Linked DNA regions of Homo sapiens. The protein of the gene in region 1 purifies or fractionates together with the protein of each later gene. This does not show direct contact. Each region holds a gene or a part of one and is shown in the gene's direction. Other genes may lie near its edges.

Region 1 (2,952 bases):
TCTGAGACCCCACCAAATTTCGTGTTGAAATGTAATCCCCAATGCTGGTGGGAGGTGATTGGATCATGGGGGTAGATTTCTCATGAATGGTTTAGCACCATTCTCTTGGTGCTGTTCTCATGATAGTGAGTGAGTTCTCATGAGTTCTGGTTGTTTAAAAGTGTGCAGCATCTCCCTGACCCCTCTTGCGCCAGCTCCCACCATGGGAGATGCCTCGCTCCCCCTTTGCTTTTTGCCATGAGAGGAAGCTTCCTGAGGGCTCTCCAGAAGCAGAATCTACTACACTTCTCATACAGCCTGCAGAACCATGAGCCAATTAAACCTCTTTTTAAAAACACTTTTATTTTAAGTTCAGGGGTACATGTGCAGGATGTGCAGGTTCGTTCCATAGGTAAACATGCGTCATGGGGTTTGTTATGCAGATTATTTCATCACCTAGATATTAAGTCTAGTATCCATTAGTTATTTTTCCTGATCCTCTCCCTCCTCCCACCCTGCACCCTCTGATAGGCCTCAGTGTGTATTGTTACCCTCCACATGTCCATGTGTTCTCATGATTTAGCTCCCACTTATAAGTGAGAACATGCAGTTTTTGTAAACCTGTTTTCTTTAGGGAAAGTTTAGAATTTTCTAGAGACTGGTTGTATGGTTGTGACCAAAATGCCAGTAGTGATATGGACAGTGAAGGCCAGGCTGAGGAGGTGATGGAAATGAGGAACTTACTGGGAACTGGAGCAAAGGTCACTTTTGTTATGCTTTAGCAAAGAACTTGGCTGCATTGTGCTCCTGGCCTAGGGACCTGTGGAAGTTTGAACTTGAGAGTGATGATTTTAGGGTATCTGGCAGAAAAAATTTCTAAGCAGCAAAGCATTCAAGATGCGCCCTGGCTGCTTTCAACAACCTATGCTCATATTTGTGAGCAAAGAAATTATGTTAAGTTGGAACTTATATTTACAGGGGAAGCAGAGCGTAAAAGTTTGGAGAATTTGCAGCCAGCTATGTGGTAGAAAAGAAGAGCCCGTTTTCAGGGAAGGAATTCAAGCAGGCTGCAGAAATTTGCATAAGTAAAAAGGAGCCAAGTGCTAATGGCCAAGAAAATGGGGAAAAGGCCTTGAAGGCATTTCAGAGACCTTTGTGGCAGCCCCTCCCATCACAGACTCAGAGGCCTAGGAGGACAGAATGACTCTGAGTATTAAAGTAGATTTAATCTAAATCATAAAGTACAAGCTAGAGCAATCCCTCCAGTGCTGCAGAAACTGCCTGCATGTGGCTCCCACATTGTTTCTTGGAGCTTTGGTGGTGGTAGGGGTGGCAGGGGCAGGTGTTATGTTTCTTGGTTTCTCACCTTCAGGTCTCCTTACCCATGTTTCCTTTGTCAGAGTCATTGGCCTTGATGGAGGGGAGACTGGGTTACTCTGAGTTGAGAAGCAAGCTTGACTGCCCTGTGGTTTATATCAGCCTAGCTTAGTTTGTTTTCTGAAGTCTTCACAAATAACCAAATATCCAGCCCAGTGCAGTTCTCAATGAGTAGTCTCCAGTTCCCATCCCCCACCACACACACACACCAAACACTGTGCCCACCTGGGAGACCCATTTTCATTTATCTTCTTCTTTGAGTGCCTGGAAGGCTGAACATTTGATCTTTTCAAACATTTTTCTCTCATCTGGCCTGTTAGCGCTCTTGAGCCTTTGAAAATGCCATTTCCTCTACATACTATTCTTCCTCAGAGCAGCCCTCTGTTTTTTTTTCCAACCAGTCTTTTCTCTTGCAAAGTTCAGATCAAAATTCTTCTTTATGTAAAGAGAAGTGGCGTGCCATAGGGGTTACAAACAGGGCTTCAAGGTTAGCACTGGGATCAAATTCCGACTTTGCAACTTAACTTTCTTGAGTAAGTTGCTACACCTCTATTAGCCTCAGTTTCTTATCTGTAAAATGGGACGGCTAAGTACCTATTTCATTGGGCTGTTGAATAATGATGGTCTCATCTATGCAAGGGCTTAGTACCAGCTGGGTGAAACTCAGTGAATGGCAGGCAACCCTATTATGACTAGGCTTCTGCCAATGATCAGACTTGAACCCTGTGCTCATCCCCCCATCACTTTGTGGAACTAGATGTCCTACGTTGCACATGGCTTGATTCATGGTTTGGAGTTGTTTTCTGGTTGTTTCCTGTGTGCAGGTTTAATCTCAACCTGTGATCCCTTGAAAGCTGCAATTTTATCCCTCCCCGTCCTCCTCCCTCTCACCCCAAGGCCAAGTTTAATACTGTGCATTCTGAAATCTTGCAATGTTGATGATGTAAAATAAATCTTCTCTCCTGTGTTTCTGAAGAATACTCAGAATCTCGCTACTCTGTTAAAGAAAAAAATCATTCACTGACACTTGTTTAAAGCATGTGAAGGAAGACTTCCTCATAACCATCACGGTAGGTATCGGGGCCGCTGCAATGAGACTTCTGCAGTTGGGGAGGGAGATTGGGCTCAACTCTGAGTACAAGACGAACAAGTGGGTATTTATAGCCCAGAAGTAGAGCAGAGGTCAGTGGATTGAAAATCACTCGGAGGAAACGTCAGGGATAAGGAGGATTCTAGCTAAACTGACCTAACAGGATTCTTGCTGAAGACAGGCCAGGATGATCAGACATCACCAGAGGGCTGGCGGAGGACAAGGAACTTGATCAGATATCAAGGATGATCTGATACTGAGGTGGGGGAGTTCTTTTGCCAAACTAACTTAGCAGGGTTCTTTGCTAAAACAATTTTACAAGGACACGCACAGATGAACCTAGGAGGAGGTTCAGGAGCCTGACTAAAGTTTGGTCAAGCAGAGAATCTTTGTCTCCTCTTGGAGCAGGTTATCTCTTTCCAAGGGTTAAAATGTGAGGGATTTGAAATGCCTGCAGGCCTGCCCAGTTACCAATCAGCTTGGATGCTGAATGGAAAACTAAAGCA
Region 2 (3,818 bases), on another chromosome or scaffold:
GAGAAATGTTCCAGGACCTGACGAGGCCACTGCACATCCAGTGTCCCCATGCCCAGGTCTGACCCCTCCTCTGGCCCTACATTTCTTGTGTAGACCCCTTTGTCACCCGGTAGTCCTGCCTAAGTCGTGTTGCCTGGGAGATGGGGACTCCTGGGGCCTGTTGATGGGAGCCTGGCACAGGGTGCAGCACGCAACTCCTAGCAGGTGTGCCGTCCTTGTAGGTAACACAGGCCCTGCCTGCCTGGCAGACTGGGCATCTGTAGGTAAATTGGGCCTCCCGATGAGTGGCAGAAGCGGCCCCAGAGCCCAGGCATCTGGGCCCTGGTCCTCTTTCTACTGCCCTGTGGTGACCCCACTCTTAACACGTCCCATAAAAGGGTCTTCCCTGGGCCAGATAACCCAAGGCAAGGCCCTTACAGAGCCAGCCTTGGCCTGGTGACCTTGCTGCAGAGCCTTTGGGGATGCCACACTTGGCCGAGTGACACAGAAATTTCCTTGATTATCTCAGTTTTCAAGAAGTTTGTGTGTATGAGTCTTTCTAGAACAAGTTTTGATAGCATTGGCCAAGGCTAAAAATAACATGATTTTCACCCATTAAAGGTAACGGATTCTTAAAAGTTACCCATCCATTTTGGGGAGCAGAGCTCAATTCTGTCTGTGCTCAGTAAACTCCAGTCTTTAGCCAACAGACAGGGGGACAAAAGCCACATCTGGGTGTAATGAGGGCTTACCACAGATAAATAGGAGCATAATCAACGCCTTTCACCGCCTCCCGCCCCTCCTTCCCCCCCCCCCACCCCTCCCCGGGCCCCCATTATGACTTATAATCTCTTTGCACCAGAGTCATGGATCGTTTTTTCGCTACCATCCCATATTTTAGCAAGTCTCTCCAGTATAGGTGGCAATAGAATTGCCTTCTAAGGAGCAAAACTGTGGTTTAACAGTAAATATGTATGCATACCTACCCTGAGCTGCTGCATTGTCGAAGTAATGTGCTTCCTTTCTCTCTAACAGCGGACAAGGAGTTGTGAAACTGGACGTTCAGCCAAAGTGCGTAGCCGTCGGCCCCGGGGGATACGCCGTGGTCGTGTGCATTGGACAGGTAGGGACCTGGCTTAGTGTTTGGGTGGGAGCCTGCAGCTGTGTGGTGCCTGCTTGCTGAATTTGACTCATGTCCCGTTTGACAGTTGCTCTAGCCAGTGTTTTGGTTGAGTGCTCATTTGCACTGCACTAAGGGATCTCACATATTTAATCCTCACCACCATCACATCAGTTGTACAGATGAAGAAATGGAGGCACGGAATGGATAAATTGGTTGTCCAAGGCCGCAGCTGGTCGGAGGGCAGAGCTGGGATTTGTCTCTAAGCCTCAGACCACGCTGCCTGCCTGTCAGCCTGTAAAGTCTATGAGATACCCTGTGGGGTGGGCCTGCCTTTGCTCCTGTTCACATCCCAGCCCTGCTGCATTGTAGCTGTGTGACCTCCGGCATTTACCTCACCCTCTCTGAGCCTTAGTTTCCCATCCCCAGCACTCACAGATCCAGGTGATTATGAGGAAGTACATGTAAGTCTCCTTACACCATCTTGGTTCCTCTTACAGATGAGGAGGCTGAGGCCTAGAGCAGCTTGGTACTTTCCCACATGCAGAAGGGTGGCACCTGACTTCCCGGCCTGGCTTCTAACCCCAGACAGTGGGGCCACCTGCACACCTTTGGAATATCTGGACCAAAGCCACCTGAGACCCAAGCCTGACCCACTTTATACAGAATTCTGCCCTGCAGAAGATATTATCTGTTGGCGGGCCTAGGCTTGCTGGCATGTAGACCGGGGAAGTCAAGGGGCACCTGTTGGCACGAGTGGCGAGCCCTGCTAAAGAAAGCTGCTTTCAGCACCCTCTGGCCCTCCTTTGCCTTGTGAACTTAATTGCGTTAGGGACAGTGGATTTCTCTGTGTCCTAGATAATAAGAAATCCCTGCCAAGTAATTATTGCAAACAGCCTGGACAGCCAGTGGGGGTGGGGAGGTGCAAAGGGAATCCACACATGGAGCGCCTCGGGGCCTGGGGGAAACGCTACAAAGCGGAGTTCTAGAAGGCTGGCAGGTGGCCTATCTCTGCACAGCAGGGCTCTTCCCAGCCAAGGGGTCTGCACATGGGGCTTTGTGGGTGAGGGGATGAGGCCTAGGGCAGCGTGCCCTGTGTCTCCAGACCCAGGTTTCCTCATCTGTAAAGTTGTGGTCATCATAGGCCACCCTTTCCCCTGAGGCTGAGAGGATGTTCAGACTGGCCCAGCTGGCGCCTGCTGCCCAGGAGGTTAGAAAGGACCCCGGTAGGGTTGTGGTGTGCAGGGGACAGGCTCCAGGTCTCTGCACCTCCTCATGTGGCATTTCTCTGTGATCTGCTGTTACCTGATCCTCCCAGGGCATCTGGAACCCCTGCTCTGGGTCAGAATTTTCTGCAGAGCTCCCTGTCACCAGTCAAAGAGTTAGGAGGGTGCTAGGAGGGGCCTGGGATTTTAGATCAGGAAACAACCAGGTTCAAGTCTCATGTCGGACGAAGCTTCAGGCAAATGCTTAGGCCCTCATTCTTCACCTGTGAGTAGGTAAGGCCACCTCCAGAGCCGGGCAGATGACAGAGGTGCCTCTTCAGTAGTAGGTTTTAGTCAGGGTGCTGCTACCATTCATCGCGATCCACCCACAATCCACGCAGAAACAGAAGCCCAGACGGTAGGGGCAGAGGCTGCCTTCCCTCATGACAGCTGGTGGCTTGGGTAGGGGCACACTGGGATAAAGGCAAAACTCAGAGATGAAGGCCACTGTCTGGGAGCAGTTGAGTAAGTTAGAACCGGAAGAATTGACAAGGAAGGGAGATGGAAGGAAGGCCCCCGCTGCAGAGCCTCTGCTGCATGTACCAGAGGCAAAGGCCCAGTGCGGGTGCCGAGGCTTGGATTCTGGGCGAGTCCCGGCTCAGCCTGTGGGAACTGGAGCCTTGGGCGTGCAGCATAAGCACCGTACCCCATTTTCTTCTCTGAAACGGGGAACCCGATCCCTGCCTTGTGGGGCTGGAACACTCACAGCAGAGCGCTGGCACGTGCCTAGGGGCTGTCGCTGTTTTTGTTTACTGTTGTTAGTACCTTTCTTACCCTGAACGTTGATTCCCATCGAGGCCAAGTGACTTTCCAAGAGGTGGTGCTGTGGTGACTGCCTTGGAAGTAATGTAGTGATGACAGTAATGGTCACAGTTAGTTGTGTTTCCTGCCCCACCTGACTGGCTAGAGCAACTGTCAAACGGGACATGAGTCCAGGTGGTGTGGCTCAGAGCCCCAGGTGGCCCTGCAAAGAGGTTGGGTATGGAGCCAAACCCAGCTCCAGTGAGCCCCGACAGGGACGCGCCCCTCCTACCACTGAGGGTTTTGTCCCGAAGGGCTGGACCGCCTGACCAGCTGCCTGTGTGTGCCACAGATTGTCCTGCTGAAGGATCAGAGGAAGTGCTTCAGCATCGACAACCCCGGCTACGAGCCCGAAGTTGTGGCAGTGCACCCCGGCGGGGACACGGTGGCAATTGGGGGTGTGGTAAGTCGCTTTCCTCTCCCCCGTGCTCTCTGTCCTTGGTATCTGGGTGATTTGGGGACAGTGTGAGCTGTGTGAGTACCGGGGCTGTCTCAGGGAAGGCGAGGGGTCAGGGGAAGGATGGGGGCAGTCGGGGCGTGGGACCTGCTCTGGGGCCCAGCCACGCCATCTCCTGCCACCCAGGGCTGGAGCCTTCCCCTCCCCTCCTCGGCACTTCCCCCACCTCACTGCCCGGGTGCCCACAAGACTGTGG

The links.
Region 2: the proteins of GSTO2 (region 1) and WDR1 fractionate together in Homo sapiens (co-fractionation; one large-scale study listed by BioGRID). This does not show direct contact.

What each region holds. Positions count from the first base shown.
Region 1 is NC_000010.11:104,302,615-104,305,566, forward strand, and holds the end of GSTO2 (glutathione S-transferase omega-2), read left to right. Parts: 3' UTR 1-2,336; downstream 2,337-2,952. UniProt on the Homo sapiens protein: Exhibits glutathione-dependent thiol transferase activity. Has high dehydroascorbate reductase activity and may contribute to the recycling of ascorbic acid. Participates in the biotransformation of inorganic arsenic and reduces monomethylarsonic acid (MMA).
Region 2 is NC_000004.12:10,078,641-10,082,458, reverse strand, and holds part of WDR1 (WD repeat-containing protein 1), read left to right. Parts: intron 1-1,014; coding exon 1,015-1,102; intron 1,103-3,457; coding exon 3,458-3,568; intron 3,569-3,766; exon of another isoform or gene 3,767-3,818.